Regions from separate parts of the Homo sapiens genome. Here region 1 is linked to region 2. The links come from fine-mapping of genetic effects on gene expression. A gene starts in region 2. The other region holds a variant in brackets. All regions are shown on one strand. Distances are between the middles of the regions.

Evidence for each region. PIP is the estimated chance that this variant, and not a neighbour inherited with it, causes the effect.
Region 1: its variant is fine-mapped to the expression of ACO1 in hippocampus (GTEx, PIP above 0.99). The same link has a PIP of 0.9 or more in blood mononuclear cells, caudate, hypothalamus, nucleus accumbens, prefrontal cortex and putamen.

Annotation. Positions count from the first base shown.
Region 1 is chr9:32,448,393-32,459,294 of GRCh38, forward strand. ACO1 (aconitase 1) reads left to right here. Exons shown (of 21, transcript NM_002197.3): 20 at 504-689; 21 at 1,606-6,377. The coding sequence ends at 1,719. RIGI (RNA sensor RIG-I) reads right to left here. Exons shown (of 18, transcript NM_014314.4): 18 at 6,910-9,026. The coding sequence ends at 8,730. It overlaps LOC101060445 (a long non-coding RNA gene), which reads left to right and starts at 10,650. Exons shown (of 1, transcript NR_197444.1): 1 at 10,650-10,902. The variant T/A (reference allele first, on the strand shown) is at 5,958.
Region 2 is chr9:32,378,520-32,389,421 of GRCh38, forward strand. ACO1 (aconitase 1) reads left to right here and starts at 6,124. Exons shown (of 21, transcript NM_002197.3): 1 at 6,124-6,216. RefSeq lists a silencer at 5,925-6,304.

The DNA.
Region 1 (10,902 bases), 70 kb after region 2:
CAGGTCAACCTCAGACTGCTGTGCTAGCAGCAAGAATTTCAAGCCAGTGGATCTTAGCTTTCTGGGCTCCTTGTGGGTGGGACCCACCAAGCCAGGCACTGGAGGGAATCTCCTGGTCTGCTGGTTGTGAAGGCCATGGGAAAAGCGCAGTATCTGGGCCAGAGTGCACTGTTCCTCCTGGTACAGTCTCTCATGGCTTCCCTTGGCTAGGAGAGGAAGTTTCCTGACCCTTTGTGCTTCCCAGGTGAGGTGACGCCCCACCCCACTTGAGCGCATCCTCCATGGGCTGCACCCACTGTCCAACCAGTCCCAATGAGATGAACCGGGTACCTCAGTTGGAAATGCAGAAATCACTCGCCTTCTGTGTCAGTCTCACTGGGAGCTGCAGACTGGAGCTGTTCCTATTCGGCCATCATGCCAGCTCTCTCACAAAGTCTTTTGTAAACCTGTGTATCCAAAGAAAAGATTGGAAGTATGTCTAAACTACTGTCTTTATTCATCAGGGAATCAAAGCCGTCCTGGCCGAGAGCTACGAGCGCATTCACCGCAGTAACCTGGTTGGGATGGGTGTGATCCCACTTGAATATCTCCCTGGTGAGAATGCAGATGCCCTGGGGCTCACAGGGCAAGAACGATACACTATCATTATTCCAGAAAACCTCAAACCACAAATGAAAGTCCAGGTCAAGGTAAGCTGGAGCCTCTCTATGCCAGGCCCTGTCGAAAGGGGCCCCCTCGTTTGTAACCAGTCTTGTTAGAAGGAAATTAGTGAGGTTTAGAAGGCAAAAAATATCACTCAGGAGGACTGCATTAGACTTAGGAGGCCTACTAGCATCTTTTCTACCTGCCTTCATAGCATAGGATGATGCCTATGGATTTAATTTCTCTGTTTATTCACAGAGTTATCCTCAGTTCCATTCTTACCTCCCACCCCCTACTGTACCCTGTTCCCGGTCTCTCGTGATGAGAGCTCAGGGATGTGACATTTCACATTACCTAAAACATTTCACTATAAAAACGTGAGCAACAGATATACTCACCCCTCCCTAAGCCTGCCCATAGGCACCAGGCTTTGATTAGCCCAAGAGTGAAAATGATAGATCCCTAGGCAAGGTAAAGATAAAGTGCCCAGCACCAGGTCCCAGGGGTCATTCGGTGCCCCAGACAGAGGCAGTGCAAAAGTCTGTGTCTCAGATAAGCAGATGGGCCAGCTGCCTAAGGGACAACCTTAATGAAATCTCTGCTGATTGAATACTTCTGTCCACAGGGAGCCCCCAGAGGTTTAGAAAATACCACCCTGATGTCATTAATAGCTACTGCCCTGAGAAGCTATTTCTAGTTCTTAGATGGCTCTCACCCCCATCATTTACAGTCTGCAGTGATTCTCAAACTGTAATGGGCAAAGCAGCCTCCCAGAGATCTTGCTGAAATGCATCTTCTGATTTAGTGGGTCTGGGCTGGGGCCAGCAGCCTTGCATGTCCTCATGTGCTGCTGGTGTTACTGAAGTGTGGACCACACCTGAGGGGCAGGCTGGGCAGAATTTCCTCCGAGCAGAGCTGTCTCGCCACCTCCCTCAATGATGCTTCTGTTTCTTTGTGCCACAGCTGGATACTGGCAAGACCTTCCAGGCTGTCATGAGGTTTGACACTGATGTGGAGCTCACTTATTTCCTCAACGGGGGCATCCTCAACTACATGATCCGCAAGATGGCCAAGTAGGAGACGTGCACTTGGTGCTGCGCCCAGGGAGGAAGCCGCACCACCAGCCAGCGCAGGCCCTGGTGGAGAGGCCTCCCTGGCTGCCTCTGGGAGGGGTGCTGCCTTGTAGATGGAGCAAGTGAGCACTGAGGGTCTGGTGCCAATCCTGTAGGCACAAAACCAGAAGTTTCTACATTCTCTATTTTTGTTAATCATCTTCTCTTTTTCCAGAATTTGGAAGCTAGAATGGTGGGAATGTCAGTAGTGCCAGAAAGAGAGAACCAAGCTTGTCTTTAAAGTTACTGATCACAGGACGTTGCTTTTTCACTGTTTCCTATTAATCTTCAGCTGAACACAAGCAAACCTTCTCAGGAGGTGTCTCCTACCCTCTTATTGTTCCTCTTACGCTCTGCTCAATGAAACCTTCCTCTTGAGGGTCATTTTCCTTTCTGTATTAATTATACCAGTGTTAAGTGACATAGATAAGAACTTTGCACACTTCAAATCAGAGCAGTGATTCTCTCTTCTCTCCCCTTTTCCTTCAGAGTGAATCATCCAGACTCCTCATGGATAGGTCGGGTGTTAAAGTTGTTTTGATTATGTACCTTTTGATAGATCCACATAAAAAGAAATGTGAAGTTTTCTTTTACTATCTTTTCATTTATCAAGCAGAGACCTTTGTTGGGAGGCGGTTTGGGAGAACACATTTCTAATTTGAATGAAATGAAATCTATTTTCAGTGAAAACTTGTTGACTTTGAGTTTTGCTGTGTTTGTGGCTAGAGTTTTGGGATATTTAGTACAGAGTGAATCTCACACCATATCATTGGGAAGCCTGAATAACCTTCATATTCTCCCATTTTTACAACTCTATCAGAACTGTACGGGTATAACGGAAATGTTTAGGAACCATTATGCTCGCTCTTCCCTGTTTGGGAGCAGACAAGAAGGAAGAGTAGCCTGGTGGCAGTGGCAACGATATAAGTACATAAGGAAAAGCAGATAAACTTCAGGACACTAAAAACCAATTATCTGCTCATTTTTACCCCTGTAGTCATTTCTGGGCATGCCTTAGTTTGCTTGGGTTGCTATAATGTAATGCCATAGACTGGCTGAAAGAACAGAAATGTATTTTCTCACAGTTATGGAGGCTGGAATTCTGAGATCAAAGTTGAAGCCACTTCATTTTCTGGTGAGGACACTCTTCCTGGTTTACAGATGGCCACCTTCTTGCTTGTTCTCACATGGCATTTCTTTGGTATGTGCCTGGTGGGGGAGAGAGAAAATAGGCTCTCATGTCTCTTCTTACAGCAACACTAATTGTATTGGATCAGGGTCCCACTCTTATGGAGACCCAGGAAAGCTGGTGGTATAACAACTTGGTTCAAGTCCAAATGCCTAAGAACCTGGGGAGGGGCATGGGGAATGCTGGTATAAGTCCCAGAGTCTGAATGCCCAGGAACAAGCAGGAGCTGTGATGTCCAAGGACAGGAGGGCAGGATCTTTGTAATGAATTTTTAATGTCAACCTTAGCACTCAGGGGATATGGCCTGGTCATCAGAACATCTGGAATCTAATCCTCTTTCTACTTCTCACCAGATGAGGGATCAAGACAGGTTATTTAGCATCCCTGCACTTGCGGTCCTGGGGATCTTATTTATATTCATTTAAAAAATAAATTACAAACAAACAGCCAGGCGCAGTGGCTCATGCCTATAATTCCATCACTTTGGGAGGCCGAGGTGGGTAGATCACCTGAGGTCAGGAGTTCTAGACCAGCCTGGCCAACATGGTGAAACCCCGTCTCTACTAAAAATACAAAAAATTAGCCAGGTGTGGTATTGTGTGCCTGTAATCCCAGCTACACAGGAGGCTGAGGCAGGAGAATTGCTTAAACCCGGGATGCAGAGGCTGCAGTGAGCCGAGATCGTGCCATTGCACGCCCGCCTGGGCTACAAGAGCAAAGCTCCGTCTCAAAAAAAAAAAAAAATTACAAACAAACAGAACTCCATTGTACAAAAAAACCTGTGATCCTCAAGTTAAGATCAGTCCTAGAATAAAAACACTAAGAATGGCTGAGAAAACAGACCTCCACCCTCTCAGCTCTCCATTACTGAGCAGCTGGGGAGCTGTCTCGCTCCCCGCATTCAGTGGCTCCTGTGGTCTGTATTTTTGTATCCTCCCCAAAATTCAGGTGGTGAAACCTTAACCCCCCAGGTAATGGTAATAGAAGCTGGGGCCTTTGGAAGGTGATTAGATCATGAGGGTAGTGCCTTTTAAAAGAGACTCAAGATAAGATAGAGACCCCCTCATTTCTTCTGCCATGGGAGAACACAGCAAGAAGTCACCATCCGTGAACCAGAAAGTGGGTTCTCACCAGATACTGAATCTGCCAGTGCCTTGAACCTAGACTTTCCAGCCAGAACTGTGAGAAATTTCTATTGTTTATAAGCCACCCAGTTGATATTTAGTTACAGCAGCCCAACCAAGACTGTGGTTATGAGGAAACAAACACATTATTGTGGCTAGACTAATGGAATTGGGTCCCTTACCTCCAAGTACACCCTCTGTCCTTTTCGGTAAAAATATCTTCGCCAGGCACGGTGTCTCATGCCTATGATCCCAACACTTTGGGAGGCCGAGGCTGGAGGGTTGCTTGAGCCCAGAAGTTTGAGACCAGCCTGGGCAACACTCTACAAAAAAAAAAATAAATAAATAAATAAATAAAATAAATCAGCCAGGTGTGCACCTGTGGTCCCAGCTGTTCAGGAGGCTGAGGTGGGAGGATCACTTGAGCCTGGGAGGTCGTGGCTATGATTGCTCCACTGCACTCCAGCCTGGGCAATAGAGTGAGACCCTATCAATCAATCACCACCCCCCCCCCCCCCAAAAAAAAAAGTATCTTGGCCAGTGTCTCAACCTTGCCCACTAACAAGCCTAAATAAACCAACTTCTTTTACCTGGTTCTTTAAGGGCTGCTCGTCTTACTATCCAAATTAAAAATCTGCTGTTCTCCCTCCCATATTCTTTGCGAATGAAGATTCCCCTGTTTGTTTGGATAGTTTTCCAAATTCATTACTGCATTCCTGGCATCCGCAGCAAGCTAAGAGTTAGTTAATATTTTTAATATAGCAAATAAGGATGAGGGATGCCCTTCATGTGTATTTACACACCAGATTTTTATGGTACATAGGGAGTAATCTAGGGAAAAGATATATTAGGCATGAATCTTAGCTGTGGTAGAAGCACAGCTCAAATTAGCTTAAGGAAAAAAAAAAAAAAGCTGGCTCATAGAACTTGAGGACAGTGGTGGCCATGACTATGGGCTTGATTGGATCTAGTGACTCAAGCTCCCTTCCATTTGCCCCTCCAACCACCCCCCCATCCCTCCACCAATCATACCTTCTGTTGGCCTCTGCAGTAGAGTGGCCTCTTCTGGGCCCTTCCACATGCCAGGGGATATGGCCACCAGCAGTTCTGGGGAAACCATTAGTAATTTGTGATCGTAGAGATTTGTCTCCCAGTATTCCCTAGGGCAAAAATATTGGGAGTTCCTAGTCACCTAAATGAAGAACCTTATTTTTAGCAGTTTCCCTTTCAGGGCTCTAACAGGACTGTGGAGTAATGTACGGGGTTATGTAGGAGCAATGCAGAGCCACTTTTGAAAAACAGTAGCCAAGGTTCTACTGGCTGCCTTCTTAGGACATTATTAAATATCATAAACACAAGTGGAATTTAACACCCAGCCAGTTTGTGTTCAACCAGACAGCGTCATTATGAACAAAGATTATATAACGATAGCTGATATTAAGTAAGTTTTAAAAGTTGACATCCCAAGAGTGAAGCCTACTTATTCAGTACAGATTTGTTGAATGAAATTCGTAGTTTTATTTTACGGCATAATGAAACAGAGTTCCAGACATGTACCTGCCAAATTTGGTTCTGGTTGTCTTATCGTATGCAGGCTGGATACCTGCTACTGTGCTTCTACAGGATGTTAACAGTGTCCCCTGAGTAAAACAGTTCCACGGTCAGTACATTTGGGAACCACTGAGTTAAATGGGTTTTATCACTGCAGAACAGACACAAGAACAATGTGTGCTGTAAATCACTGTTTGCAGGGAAGGTGGCAGCAAATGGCACAGAAACCCACCTGACCACAGACTGCTTTCTTCTGGGCGTTCACGCACTGTGCTCCACAGGATACTCTTGAGAAACATTGAGCTATGGTTGGTCTGTTGTTTGAAATTCAAATAATAA[T/A]GAATCCATTTTAAGGACAGGAATTGGTTTACTGACCTTGATGTTGGGATGACTCTTCATTTCAGGGTGAAAATATCACAGCATCAGCACAGGCCAGGACCACAGAGATAACAAGGTGGTAGTTGTGTAACAGGTTGTGTCTGAACCACAGGAGCTTCAAAACATACACGGCTGGACACCCTGCCAGGATGCTCTAATGGGGCTGGGCATGTGTCCATGAAAAAGACTCCCCAGTTGTTTCTAAAATGTGGCCTTTGTTCTAGAAATGCAATGACCAGCATTTGGGAGTCAGTCAAAAGATCCACTTCCTAAAAGCCTACCTGCTCATTTCTTTCATTCAATACATATTAACCAAGTGCCTACTTTGTTTGAGTCCATGCCTGGCAATGACATTATTCCATTAAAAGTCAAACAAGGAAATGCTAAGTTCTCCTTATTTATTTTCACTTCAGTCTGCCTGCCTCAGTTGGCTGAATAGGGCTATTCACCTTCATCCAAATTGAATCATTTACATACTTAAAAGAACTTTTCTTGGCCAGGCATGGTGACTCACGCCTGTAATCCCAACACTGTGGGAGGCCGAGGCAAGTGGATCACTTGAGGTCAGGAGTTCAAGACCAGCCTGGCCAACATGGTGAAACCCCGACTCTACTAAAAATAAAAAAATTTAGCCGGGTGTGGTGGTGGGTGCCTGTACCCAGCTATGTGGGAGGCTGAGGCAGGAGAATCACTTGAACCTAGAAGGCAGAGGTTGCAGTGAGCCGAGATCACACCACTACACTCCAACCTGGGCAACAGAGTGAGACTCCATCTCAGAAAAAAAAATAATAATAATAACTTTTATCTTATTAAATCTATTTCTAGTAGATGTTTTACACATCCTATTGGAGTTCTTAAACAATAGTGTATTAGTCTGTTTTCACACTGCTATAAAGAACTGCCTGAGACTGGGTCATTTATAAAGAAAAGAGGCTTAATAGATTCACAGTTCCACATGGCTGAGGAGGCCTCAGGAAACTTACAATCATGGCAGAAGGGGAAGCAGGCAAGTCTTACATGGCAGCAGATGAGAGAGAGAGTGTGTGTAAAGGAGGAATTGTCAAACACTTATAAAACCATCAGATCTCATGAGAACTAACTCACTATCCCAAGAACAGCATGGGGACAACTGCCCCCGTGATCCAATCACCTCCCGTCAGGTCCCTCCCTTGACACATGGGGATTATAATTCAAGATGAGATTTGGGTGGGGACATATAGCCAAACCATATCAAATAGCAATTAAAAAAAATCACATAAGAAAAGACACTCTTAATAAAATACAAATAGAAAATGAAAAAAAACCAACTCATAAACTTGGTTTAAATAATCCATTTGTATTGGGTCTTAGTAAGAATACTACTACTAGTAACTATTATCAAGCAACTACTGTGTCATGTACTTTTCACACATTCTTTTAATTAAAAACTCTCCACTAACCCTTACAGTTCAGTATTATCCTTGTTTTACAGATGAAGAAAAGCCAAAGAGAAGTTATATAACTGGCAAGTTTCTCTGGCTCCCCGCCTGCACCACTGCTCACCAGATTGCATGAAGAGGGAGGCAGCTGTAACACCTCATCCCGTTGATCTCCAGGGAACTCAGATACTTGTTTCCACGTCCAGGAAACCGCAAACTAAGCTCTTTGAAGCATCAGCAAACCTTGCTAAGTGACACGTGAATGCCATTTGGATACATATTCTAATCTTTCAAGTAGAAAGGACAGTCAGACTGCCTCATCTGTAACATCCAAGGGATCTGAGAACAGACATTCAGTCCAGGTGTTGAACATCAACATCATTATAGGAAAATGGTCAAAGAGAACAATGGCACACGTTAAGAGAACATATTAATAGGGCAAGATGTATAGTAAACTAAGTTTTCAAGAAGTATTTTATCATTTTTATGCTCTCTACTAAAAGCTGACCACTGTAGAGTGGATACACATTGCTACATACAGCAACTCTACAGTGGACAGCTTTTAGTAGTAAGCATAAAAATGGCTTTATGTTCTCATGTTCTCTGTGTAGCCATACCACACGTTGCTACACCAGGAACATGAGTACATATAACCATTACATATACATACCTGTATGTATGTATATTAGTTACATATACATATGTACAGTATATACATGTATATATATTGAACCCTTGGAAGGGATCAGCAAAGAGGAGGACTCAATAAAAAAAGACTAGAATAGAACTAGAAGAGAGAGAAGCCCAGGGAGAGCTTCAAGAAGAGTGCTCAACAGGGCCAAATGCGCAGAGGTCAAATAGAAGGTTAAGAAGTGCCCAGTGGATTTGGCAACCAGAGTCACTGGTAACCTTCAAAAGAACAATTTCAGTAGATTGTTAAGGGCAAAAGCCAGTTTACAGTAGGTTAAGGAGACAAAGGGAGATAAAAATTCCCAACATTCCATTCATTCATCTATCCCAGTGTGTACAGAGTGATTACTGTGTGTTTGTTGGCAGTTGACTCTAAAAAGAAGGCTAGAAATGAGGCTTTTTAATTTTTCCCAAGTACTATGAGCTCTGTTGGCCTACAAAATACTCAGTGCTGTGATTCACTCATTTGTGCTTTGCATATATAATATAGTACAAACTGCTAAAGATATTTTTAAAAAATATATTTTCACAGGGGTACAAGCGATCCATGATTATACCCACTATGTTTGTTTCTTCTCCACTCAAAGTTACTCATTCCCTGTAGCTGAAGATTGAGGACCTGATATCATTTGGACATTTCTGCTGGATCAAATGGTATCTTCTCAAAATGAAAGTCCTTCCACTTCGAGTACAGTGTCTGAACTCCAGTTGCAATATCCTCCACCACAAAACTTTCAATTTTTATAACTGGAATCTCAAATGTCTTGTACTTCACATGGATTCCCCAGTCATGGCTGCAGTTCTGTCGGGCACAGAATATCTTTGCTCTTTTTTCAAAACTTGAAAACTGCTTTGGCTTGGGATGTGGTCTACTCACAAAGCATTCCTTAAAAGCATCTCCAAGCACAGTGTAATGGCATTCCTACAGATGAAGGGATGGAATAACACACAAAAGAGAACGTTAGAACCAGTACATAATTGTGATTTAAAAAAAAAAAAAAGAAAACCCCACAATAATCTGAGGCAAAGAACAGGTGGGTCTCACTTATTTTACAATTGGAGGAAAAAAAAAAATAGATTCACCCAAAGTCCAGAGGATCCATGCACCTGACTCCCCTCTACAGGCAGGGTGGGGTTGCAAGTGAGGACACTGGGCACCTCATAAAGAAGAAGATTAAGAAGGTTCCAGGTAACCCAGCTTCTGAAGGTAGATACTCATTATTCAAAAACAGAAGCGATGTTTGCTGAAAATTTGTGAAGCTGAAGTTCACCAGTGGCCCTGGCAGGCACAATCCAAAGGATACAGGGAAAACGACCAAGGTCAAGATGCAATTGAAGAAGGTCAGGGACTAATGTGTCCACAGGCCCCACCTAGAGTCAACTTTAGAGTAAACAGCTCAGAAACAAATGCAGATCCAACATACTAGTCCCTCAGGAAAACATAGGGTCTAAAAGGGCCATTTTTAGTAGAACAATCACCCAAATTGGAGCTGAAAGGACCTTTTACAGCTAAAGAAGCAGACTTAGAAAGGTAAGGGAACTTAGCAATATGACTCCTAATAGGCTTTTTGCCCAAACAGCTGAGCTGATGAGAGATTTCTGCTTTCTGAAGACGAACGGAACATCCTGAAGTAATAACTCCTCATCTGAGCCAGCCCAGCCCCTCCACTGTGCCCCCCATGCAAGAGTTATACCCCATATTTCTCTTTGGAGATTTTTCTAACCCTTTCTCTGAAAGTTTTAAGAAAGAAATATAAGGCTGCAATAGAAGGCTAATCTGCAGATGTCACATTTTACAAATAAGGAGATATTTTGTTTTCATTATAAAAGTGATCCATAGCCCAAAAGGAATGTTTGGAAAACATAAGGTAGTAGGAAAAGAGAAAAAAAGTCATGGAATCTCACCACCAAAATATTAATACATTTTGGTATAGTTCCCCTAGCCTTTGTTTTTCTGTAGCAAGGTAGGTTTTTTGACTTTTTCTCTTGACAATGACAATGAATGTATTTGCTGCTGTTGTTTCACACAGCTACAAAGTAGCATCTTTACAATTCTGTGTTCTGGTTACTTTTTTCCTTATTACCATTAGTTTGTAAGCAGTTTTTCATTATACTACATAAACTTCATAATTTTTTAAAATAAACTTTACTTTGGAACAATTTTAGATTTAAAGAAAAATTGCAAAGATATCCCAGAAAATTTCTGCATACCCTTTACCCAGTTTCCCCAAATGTTAACATCTCATATACCACAGCACATTTGTCAAAACCAAGATAATTAACATCAGTACATTACTATTATCTAAACTACAGATTTTACCACTCTTTCTCTAGTTGTATCCTTTATCTGTTCCAGGAGCTAATCCAGGACACGTCATTGCATTTAGCATGACTTTTTTTTTTTTTTTTTTGAGACAGAGTCTTGCTCTGTCACCCAGGCTGGAGCGCAGTGGCGCGATATCAGCTCACCGCAACCTCTGCCTCCCGGTTCAAGCGATTCTCCTGCCTCAGCCTCCCGAGTAACTAAGATTACAGCCACCTGCCACTACGCCCAGCTAACTTTTTTATTTTTAGTAGAGACGGGGTTTCACCATGTTGGCCGGGCTGGTCTCGAACTCCTGACCTCGTGATCGCCCACCTTGGCCTCCCAAAGTGTTTTGATTACAGGCATGAGCCACTATGCCTGGCCAAAAACTATTTCTTTATTATTGAACATTTAGTATTTTTTTTTCACTTCTTAGCTTTTTTTAAATACACAGATCATGGCCACAGTAACAATGGAAATAATAGTAGTTTTA
Region 2 (10,902 bases):
AATGAAGCCTGAGAATATTTATCACCAGTAGAAAATGTTTTCTTCTTAATACTTATTCTGTCTTTTCTTGAGACAAGGTCTCACTCTCTGTCACCCAATTATTGATTCTCCTAATGCTAACCATCCTCTCAGCTTTTTACGGCTAGCAATGTGTTTGCCACATACTCATCAACAGAGGGCAGTAGCTCACCATCATTGGTTTAGTTAGCCTGCATGGTACTTTCAAGGATGGACTTGTAACAGACAAATGTATCTTTCTGTGTCGTCTGTTGTCGTTTCCTCCCACCAAGTATGGGAGAAGGGAGGAGAGGAACTACTAAGAAGCAGTCAACAAAAATGGTAAAAGTATGCTTGAATCTAAACAAATATTGACCCTATAAACAGAAATAATAATGCCTTCAAGAGTTACAATGTGTGACTATAAAATACAAGATAACAATGGCATAGAAATCAAAAGGAGGGTACATGAAGTTAGAAGGTTGTAAGAACCTGGAATTATCTGGGGAAAAAAAGATAAAAAATAACAATTAACATTAGATTTTGATATGTGAAAGATGAATGCTGTACTATCGTGGGCAAACATTAAAATAATATCAGTAAAGCTGTGGGAAAATAATAAAACAATAAGTTCTCAGGTCCCTCAGAGTAAGAATTAATCATAGTCATTTTTGGACTCATCACACCAAGCTCTTAGCAGAGCCAGTTTGTGGACTGATTAAGTTTCTGCTCTCTAACTTCTAGGACAGTCAGTAAATGTGAAATTAAGGAACAAAAGGTAGCTTTCTTAATCCATTTATGTCTTCTTAATACTTATTCTCCGTCTCTCTTTGAGACAAGTTCTCACTCTGTCGCCCAATTGTTTTTTCTCTTAATGCTAACCATCCTCTCAGCTTTTTCTGTTTGACAATGTGTTTACCACACACTCATCAACAGAGGGCAGTAGCTCACCATCATCTGGTTAAGTTAATCTGCATGGTACTTTGAAGGATGAACTTGGAACAGACGAAATGTTTGCTGTTTCCTCCCACCAAGGATGGGGCAAGGGAGGAGGGAAAGAGGATTTTCCATTTTAAAAAGCACTTAGAGCCAGGCACAGTGGTTCACACCTGTAATCCCAGCACTTTGGGAGGTCGAGGCAGGAGGATTGCTTGAGCTCAGAAGTTTGAGACCAGCCTGGGCAACATGAGGAGATCCCACCTCTATAAAAAATTTTAAAATTAGCTGAGTGTGGTGGCACACACCTTTGGTCCCAGCTACTCAGGAGGCTGAGGTAGGAGGATTGCTTGAGCCCAGGAGGTCGAGGCTGCATTGAGCCGTGATCCTGCCACTGCACTCCAGCCTGGGCAACAGAGAAAAATCCTGTCTCAAGAAGAAAATTTAAAAAGCACTTAAACTGACATGTGGAAGTAATCTCATCATAAACTGGAATTAGAAATGAGTCAAATTAGTGACAAATTTTTATTTTTACTCTCATTTGTCAACATTACCAAATTATTTTCTTGAAAAAAATGTTTTATTTTGTGTATACCTAAATAATTTAAAGGACCAATCCTGCAGAGTACTTCCCTCTCCCTTCTGAAAAATATATAACACAAAGTACTCAAAAAGTATCCAGCAAATTAACACATGTGAAAGATGGTACTAGACACCTAGGAATTATGTACCAATCCTGGAATTCATACTCAAGCTGCCCCTGATTTCCAACACCTCCATCCCCCAGAATGAGGACTCTCTTTACCCAGGTGTCCCTACATTACATGGCTGCAGCAGGGATCTCTGTGCTATCATCAGGGAGAACAAGCCCTGGAAATACGTGAATAAGGAATTCCAGCCTATATGGTGATAGAACAAATCTTTTCTCTAGAACATTTAAGTCCCTCTTCTGCAAAGAACAAATAATTTACAGCTTCAGGGTATCTGATGATTTTGTTGCATAATGCTTAAAAGCACAAGCTATGGAGTGAGGCCAGCCTTCTCTAAAACCCCAGGATCACCCTTTAAGTTTCATGACTGAAGCATTCTGTGTAACTACTCTGAATCTCAGTTTCCTCATCTGTGAAACTATGGCAATAACAATGTTACCAGCATCAACAGGCGGTTGTGAAGATTTTTATTATTAGCTATATTGAGAGGAATGGTGCTTAACTGTAAGCAGCTGCCCAGAGGATTCTTGTTCCCTGGGAAGGCAGTTCAGGGATCAGGCCCTTAGGCAGTAATTAAGAGAGCATGCAAATTAAGCGTATAGCAGGTGTGGTGAGAAGAGGGCATCAGGGGAGAGCAGTTGGCTATTTACCGGGAACCAAGATGAGGCTAAGACCTGCCTCTCCTTGTTATGAATATAACTTTGATTTTAAGAGGAACAAAACATTTATTTCAAATTTTCTCTAGTATGAAGACATATATTCAGTGAAAAATTTAGGGATTCTAAAGTCCCCTCAAAGCATTCAGGAGGACCATTTTATACTTCATTCATTGCCAAACAGATGTCTTCCCTCCGTGCCACTCTAGAGGACTCTGAACAGCGCAAAGGCCAACAGAGAGCAAAGGGTAAGCAATAGAAAGACACTGACAGTAAGTCAGTCAACAAACTTGTATTGAGCACCTACTATGCACCAGACTCCATGTTAGGGATGATGAACAAACTGACATGGGCCCCTGCCCTCATGGAGTGTATATTTCTAGGTAACAGGTCTTTGGTGCCAATCTGGGGACATGCTACAGCAGAATCACCTGTGGTAAAAATGTAGCGTATTCAGAATCTGAACACAGACCCCCACCCTGACCTAATGAATCAGACATTCTAGGAGGCAGAGGATACAGGAGGCTATATTTTTATCAGTGCCCTATGGTAAATCTGAGAAACACCCAGATTCGGAGAACTACCATTGGTGTTTCTCAAAGCATGGTCTTTTGACCACCCACATCAAACTCAGCCTCCTAAGAGCACAACACAGGCACGCATGTTTTCAATGTACCCCAAGGTTTGAGAAGCGTTATGCTTGACTTTTTCTCTTACACCTCTCCCTTCCTATTAAATGACATGTATGTGAAAATGCAGTATAAATTGTAAAGCATGATACAAAGTTAGTTGGGTATAGTTCCTAGGACCTTTCAATAAACTGAGGAAGTCCAGCATATACAAGTAACTGAAATCGGTGTGGAATATGATGAGGCATTCCTCAGAGCTCAACAGGTCTCTGGCAGAATCTTCATGGTTCTTCTTATAGCAGCAGAGCCTTCTAGCAGGTAAGGCTGCTAAAACAATACTGTTACTTCAAATGAAGGTCCTTCTGCCTCTGCCCCCCACCAGAGCACAGCTGGGGTGCCTGAGCAGTTACATGCTTGGGTGGCATCCTCTCTGAAGGTCCCTAGAGTATATGCCCTCAGCTGGGCCATTAGCAGAACCTTTTATATCGTGACAGAAATATTTGTTAGGTGGACCCTGTGAGAGCGTAGTAATATGCCATGGCAATATACCCCTTAAACATTTAGCTTTCTCAGCAGATCATGAAATACAAATTCGGGATGCAGGATTAGGATGAAAAAGAAACTAAATGGATAGGAGGGGAGAGACAGATGGTTAGAGAAGACACTAAATTCCCATTTTAGATGTGATGAATGACAGGCACTGATATGGTTTGTAATCCCCACCTGTGGAGGGAAGGAGGTGATTGGATCATGGGGATGATTTTTATTATTAGCTATACTGAGAGAAACTGTAAGCAGCTGCCCAGAGGATTCTTGTTCCCTGGGAAGGCAGCTCAGGGATCAGGCCCTTAGGCAGTAATTAAGAGAGCACGAAAATTAAACGTATAGCAGGTGTGGTGGGAAGAGGGCATCAGGGGAGAGCCGTTGGATATTTACCGGGAGCCAAGATGAGGCTAAGACCTGCCTCTCCTTGTTATGAATTTAACTCTTTTTTTCTTAAAGAGGAACAAAACGTTTATTTCAAATTTTCTCTGGTATGAAGACATATATTCAGTGAAAAATTTAGGGATTCTAAGGTCCCCTCAAAGCATTCAGGAGGACCACTGTGCATTCAGAGGACACTCTCTTGCCTGCTGCCAGGTAAGACATACCTGCTTCCCCTTCTGCCATAATTGTAAGCTTCCTGAAGCCTCCCCAGCATGCAGAACTGTGAGCCAATTAAACCTCCTTCCCTATGAATTACCCAGTCTCAGGGTTCTTTACAGCAGCGTGAGAACGGTCTAATACAGACACCTTTGGAATATCCAGGTGGGGTTGCCACATATGGCTGCAAATCAAGAGTGTGAAGGTCAGAAAGTTAACTAAGACCAATGACAGAGACATAGCAGGCTTCAGCTAGAAGTGGCAGGCAGTCTGCATACTGAGAAAATAGATGAAGAAAAACTCAGCAAATGGAGAAACATATAAAGCAAGAGGAGAGAGTGTAGGGAAAGACCTTAAAAAAGAGGGACAAAAGAGGGAAGAGGTGACTCCTAAGAGCGGAGGGCTGAAAAGCCAAAAGGAGGTTAACATTTCTAGGAAAACGAATCGCCAGTGTCAAATACCACAGAGTAGTGAGTAAGGACAGGAACAGAGGACAGGCCCTGGGATTCACGATCTGCACGTCACTGGTGACAACGTCCAAGAGCAACAGACTGGGGGGATGTGGAACTATTTCCTTCACGGTTTTGACCAGCGTGCTTACTAATAAATCTCAATTCCCTTCATAGCTCTGATTTGATTGTTTTCTGCGAAGGATTCTCAGTTACACGGATGTTATCATTGAACATTAGATACTTTGCTTTCCGAATGGCTGCCTCATTAAGAATCGCAATTTAGCTGGATGTGTCCTCATCGGACTTCCCCAGCCTTCTACTCACTCTCACCTTGCCCCTACTCTCCCTACCTCCCAAGGGGACTGGAGCATGATTTTTCAGGGATTGTGGTGCACCTCTGCCATATGGTGGACATTCAAAGAAAATTTAATTACTAATGTGAATGGAAAGGATTTAGGAAGTGGGTGGGAAAACAGTCTCCTCTCATATTGGAAATACAGTTACTTCCCCTTTCAAAATAAATATAAGTATTTATATTTCAAAGTTAAATATAACTAGACGATAGTTGTACCCTATAGTGCAGTATGACAGGGAAGGTGTAGGCTTTGGTGTCAAACCAACCTAAGGACTGAGTCTCAGCTGTTGCGCATTGCACACCTGCAAAGACGGGTAATATTCTTTACTTGTAAGGTGGTTGGAAGAGCTGAACTGAATAACGTGGAAAGAGTCGATCACAGGGCTTTGTGCAGAATAGGAGGGCAGTATAAAGTAGCAGGGGGGCTATTAGTACTGGCTATTGTTTACTCATCCTATAAGCTGCTTATTCAGAAAACTACAGTAACTTTCCAAATAATTTGGGCAGGAAAACCTCACCACCTTTCATCTAGAAAGATCTAATCACTTCTTTGAACGCCATTCACCCAAGAGGGCACAACTCCTACCAACATGAAAAGCAGATCTTGTGAAAGCCCACTTGCTGCCATCTCCCAGCCATTTCTCCGACTTCAGACCGGTGAACATCGTGCATTAGAAAGTGTTGTTACATGTCCAAGGAAATCTACATATAGAACTTTTGCCACGGAAATGCTGAAGTCCTATTCTGACAGCGTGACTCCGATGTCCACTTGGCAGGCTTTGCGCAAAGAATTAAGGCGAGGGTGGAGAGGGTGGGTAGGGTGGGGACGGACAAAGTGAGAAGGGAGGCGGGCCAAGTGACCACACGTACATGAAGCCTCTCCAGTTATGGCCAAATCATTTTTTAAAAATAATTCCATTTCTTCCCCACCCTTTGGTCACTTCCTAACGCCGGCTGGGGAGTCACATGCTAAGCTCCAAAGTGAGCAACAGACACCCTCGTCCCAGGTCCCATGCTGGCAGAAGCGGACCCGGGCCGAGGGATCAGCCCTCCCACTTCCAGCGGAGGAGCCCTTCGCAACCCTAGCCTCCAGCCCGGGGCGAAGTCCTCCAGGCCCGCGGGGGCGCCCGCAGGCTCCGCCCCTTCTTCGGCTAGCTGCCCGTCCGTCCCGCCCCTGCTCCGCCCTTCCCGCCCCTGCTCCGCCCATCGCGCGGCGGCCCCGGGGGCGAGAGGGGGCGGAGCGTGGAGGCGGCAGCTGGAACCGCGCAGCGCACGGGAACGCGTCCCGCTGCTTGGGTCAGGTTCGCCGGTCGCGGGAGCCCCGCCGTGCAGTCGGAGGTGAGTACCGACGCGGCCCGACCCACGTCCCCAGGCGGGAGCGCCGTCCACCCTGTATCCCTCGAGAGTCGGTGCGGGCCTTTACCGAGGTGCCCGAGGCAGTGGCGGCACGGGGGACACGGAGGCGAGCTTGGGGAGGCTGAGAGGAGAATCGGGGACGTGTTTCTGGCGACTGACGTCTCCACCCTGTCCCCAGTCTATGTCATGCCGGGGAGAGAAACCAGGGATTGGAAGTGGCTTTCCTAGACCCTTCTTAGCCTTGGCTGTGCGTGCTGTCCTGAAAGTCCTTGCCTAGGGTGTGCGGCCAGTCCTGGGAGTCCTAACCCCGAGGGTGTGAGGCCCGCACTGGGAGTCCTCGCCCAGGCCCGGCTGGCTGGATAGGGAAACCCTTGCTAAAGTTGTGCGGGCAGATCCGGGAATCCACTCCAAGGGGTAAAGGGAAAATGGGATGAGGGGGAAGAGACCCTTCGTGGGAGGCTTGAACACAGAGCCCACCATGATAGATTCAGAGATCTAGAAAGGAGCTTGGGCTGCAGTTATGACCAAGTCATTTTTTTCTAGATTCAGCTAGCACATCATAATGGCATCTTCCTTCTTGCAACACATGTAACTCTCTTCCCTGGGGGACAACCTCTAGGACAGAAGTCCCCAAACTTTTCTGGTACTCAGTACTCCTTTACACTCTTAAAAATTAGTATCTTAAGGAGCTTTTATGTGTGTTATATCTATCCATATTTATAATATGTAAGTAAGACTGAGAAATTTGTACTATAATAATTCATTTAAAAAGAATAGTGAACTAATTATATCTTAACATTGCCTATTTTTATGAAAAAGAACTATATTTCCCAAAACAGAAAATGATTGAGAAGAGTGGCATTGTTTTACATTTTTGCAAATCTCTTTGATGTCAAGCGTAATTGAAGACAGCTGGATTCTGATAGCTGCTTCTGCAGTCTGTTGCAATATCACATATCATGTAGCCTCTTGAGACCTCCACTGTATACTCCTGAAAATGTGTGAATGAAAAAAAGCAAGTAACATTTTATTACTAGGAAAATGGTTTTGACTTTGGAGATCCCTAGGAGTTCTCTGCACCACACTTTGAGGATGCTGGTGTAGGAAATGCTTCAGAGGCTTCATTCATTGGGCCTGCTTCTTGTTTGTGATCCTTCCTCTGATTGGGAACACACACCACCTCATGCCATGGACAGTATTAACCTCTGGTATCTGGAACCAAGTTTGATCTCACTTTGGAAACCATGTACTAGGTCCCCACGTGAGGCTGTGATGAACCTTGCCAGCCTCCTGAAAAGTCAGCAAGGCTTCGCACATGCCTTTGGTTGTCTCTGTGCTTGCAGAGCTGACCTGTCTGTGCATCAGGATTACAACAGTGATGTGGCAAACAGGACCTGTAGGCTCACAAAAGTGCCAGTGGGGAGACCATGCCAAGTGTGTAGGGGTTCCTGTGAGAGTTACCAAGTAGTCAGGAAGTTATTTCCAAAAGAACAAGGAGGCATGCTTTTGCCTTCCCTTGCACGTGTTCATTTCTGTTTGCAGTTGCATGGTTATTAGCCTTGAGTTTATTGGAATAATGATTTCCAGTCTTGACGTTCTTTCACTTTCCACTTTCAGAGGGTGTCACTCTGAGTGGTGCTTCCTCAGCCCCTGTCAAAAAGCAGTTTCCACCATCCTGGAGTGTGGTAGGTGAGGTCCTTCACGGGACTCTTTCCTTAGCTTCGTGCCTTGTCAGAACAAGTTCAAGACAGATGTTATGTGTATATATTTGGGAGGAAGAAATTTTCTAACTCCATCCTCCCTTTTGTTCCTTCATCCATAGAGCCTCTTGTGCTCTGATGGATCAGTTTAAATGCTACAGCCGATACTTGAGAAATGTTGCATGCACATGAGCGTGTTGTGTGTGTTGCACAGTCCACAGGTGAGGAGGAGGAGAAGTCCACAGGAGAAGGAAATGGGATCTAAACTCTGAGCACCTGCTGTGTTCTTTGTATTAAAAAATTCCACTTTGATGGTGGGGTCTCATTCCTTCATTCTTTCAGTAGATTTTTATTGGCCACCTATTTCTCATGTGTCCAGTTATGTGCGGGATGCCAGGAAAGTAGTGAGCACAAAAGATGCAGTCCCTGTCTTTCTGGCAATTATGGTCTGATAGCTTTGATAACTGCTGGTTAATTGAGATAGTCTATTATATAGTCAGAGTGTGTACATGAAAGCTGGTCCTGTGTGAAGAGCAGTACCCCCTACCTAAAGTGTGCTTCAAAGGCATGTGCTGAAGAAACCAGTCCCACACTGTGAAGATGATGATAAAAACCAACGTGTATCACCACGTGCCTGGCAAAGAACTTCCTTTGCCTTCTTTCCCCCACTCTTCCTTCTACATAGGAAGTAATTTCCTGTGAGGCAGCCAGATTCACAGGGAAATTACCTCCAACCTGGTGCCAGTCACTGGGCCAGCCTCGGGTTAAGACACTTTCTCTGGGTCTCAGTGTCTTTGACTTTAAAATGAGGAGTTAGGCCATTGATAGTAAGTGTCCCAAGGAGCCAGTGGTTTCAGAGCTGGTTTATACTAGCATTTGTGCATATCTCTTCCTAACTCCGTGTTCAGTGGCAACACATTTTTTAGATTGAAATAAGCCATGGTGGGAATAATAACACCATGGAAATTGGCAAATGCTACATCAGAGCTTTTTTTTCCTCTTGGAGTTCAAGTTGTTAAACCTTTGCCAGCTGACACTGCTATTGTCTGAGCCAAGGTGCTTTTGGTTTGTTTTTTTAGTAGAAAACAGACTCTTTAGCCTAGACAAAGATCCTAGATATAGGGTGTATGATTCAAGTCCTCTAAAATTTTTGATAAGGAAAAAAATCTGTTTTCATCATATTCTAAAATATAGATCAGCAAACTTTTTGTGTAAAGGGACAGGTAGTGAAATATTTTAGGCTTTTTGGGTTATGGTTATACAGTTTCTATTGCAGCTACTCAGCTCTGGTGTTGAAGCACGAAAGCGGCAATAGACAACATGCAAACAAACAAGCATGGCTGTGTTCCAGTCAAACTTGATTTACAAAAACAAGGGCCAGCCATAGTTTGCAGACTCCTGACCTAGACTATCAGAACAAGAACCATGTTTCAAAGAGAGAGTTTTATGGAAAAGGAGATTCTTCAGGACTTTATGCGTGAATACCAGAAACTTGAGTCTCCAAGATGGACGTAGCGGGCAGTAGTAACTGTAGAGGATTTGGAATCAATCATGGAAGACTCCATAGTAGGTTGTTTAAAGGAAGGCCAAGTGTGTTGAAGTTTTGAGGACAGAGCCACATATGGGTCTTATTCCCAACTCCCTCCCTGGAGCCATCTCAGATGTTATGCTAGAATGGATGTACCTGCAGTCTAACCCGTTGTGTGAATTTTGCATATTATTATGCAAAAACTAGTAGTGTCTCTAAGAGCTGTCTTGATTCCAGGGGCAGAGACAAAGGAAATGTTAAAAAGGATGGAAAGGCCCAGGCACCGTGGCTTACGCCTGTAATCCCAGCACTTTGAGAGTCCAGATCGCTTGAGCCCAGGAGTTCAAGACCAACCTGGGCAACATGACAAAACCCCATCTCTACCAAAAATACAGAAAAAAATTAAAGCCAGGTGTGATGGCACATATCTGTAGTCCCAGCTACTTGGGAGGCAGAGGCAGGAAGATCACCTGGGAAGTCCAGGCTGCAGTGAGCCATGATTGCATCACGGCACTCCAGCCTGGGCAATAGAGTAAGACCCTGTCTCAAAAAAAAAAAATCCTCGTTATATATGTATATGATACATTGTAGAGTACACTGTGTGTGTATACCTGTGTGTATGCATATTTGTACATCTATGTGTACATAAGTTGTGTGCATGTGTCATTACATATTCCATTCCATGTATTTAAAGTAGCATCATGAATGTTTAGAAGATAGACCAGTAGCCAGTTCTGGGCAGTGGAATGAGGTAGAAGGAAGCCAGAGAACTTTTGTTACTTTTCATAATAACAGATGTGTGCCTATCTTATAAGGGAGGATAGCCTGTAGCATTCATATATTGCTTTTACAACATAGTAAACCTAAAATCCCAACAACGTATACTTTCGGAAGGAAAATAGAGTTATTTCTCTGATAGGAATGTTGCCACCATCCTCCTCCCCCAATTAAAAAAAACTGCTTTGTCATATCACAGCTCTGAACTTGTATATATAATATTAGTATAAAAATAAGAGAGAGACTCTCAAGTCAAAACATTTTATTTAACAGTATTAATGTTTGACTCTTGTCCAGGGTTAGTAATACTAGTTCAAAGTGTTCCTTAGCAAGCTATTGTGCAGCCTTTACACTGGTGTTACAAAATAGTGTTGTATAGTTTTTAAACTAAAAAAAGCATGTTACACAGCAGTATTTCCCTGTGATTCTGTATTTCTGAGGAGAGAAAGCATGTGCATATATGTACGAGTGTGCCCCTGCATGTACAAAGGCAGCGGATATGCCAAAACATTGAGTGCTTTTCTCTAGGTGATACAGCACACTTGCTTTTTAGATTTTCTTCATTTTAGCTTATCGGGGTTTTCAAGCATGAATAAATATTACATTTGACATTACCAAAATCAACCCCTACAGTATGTTTACACCTGGTATGTTGAGGACAGT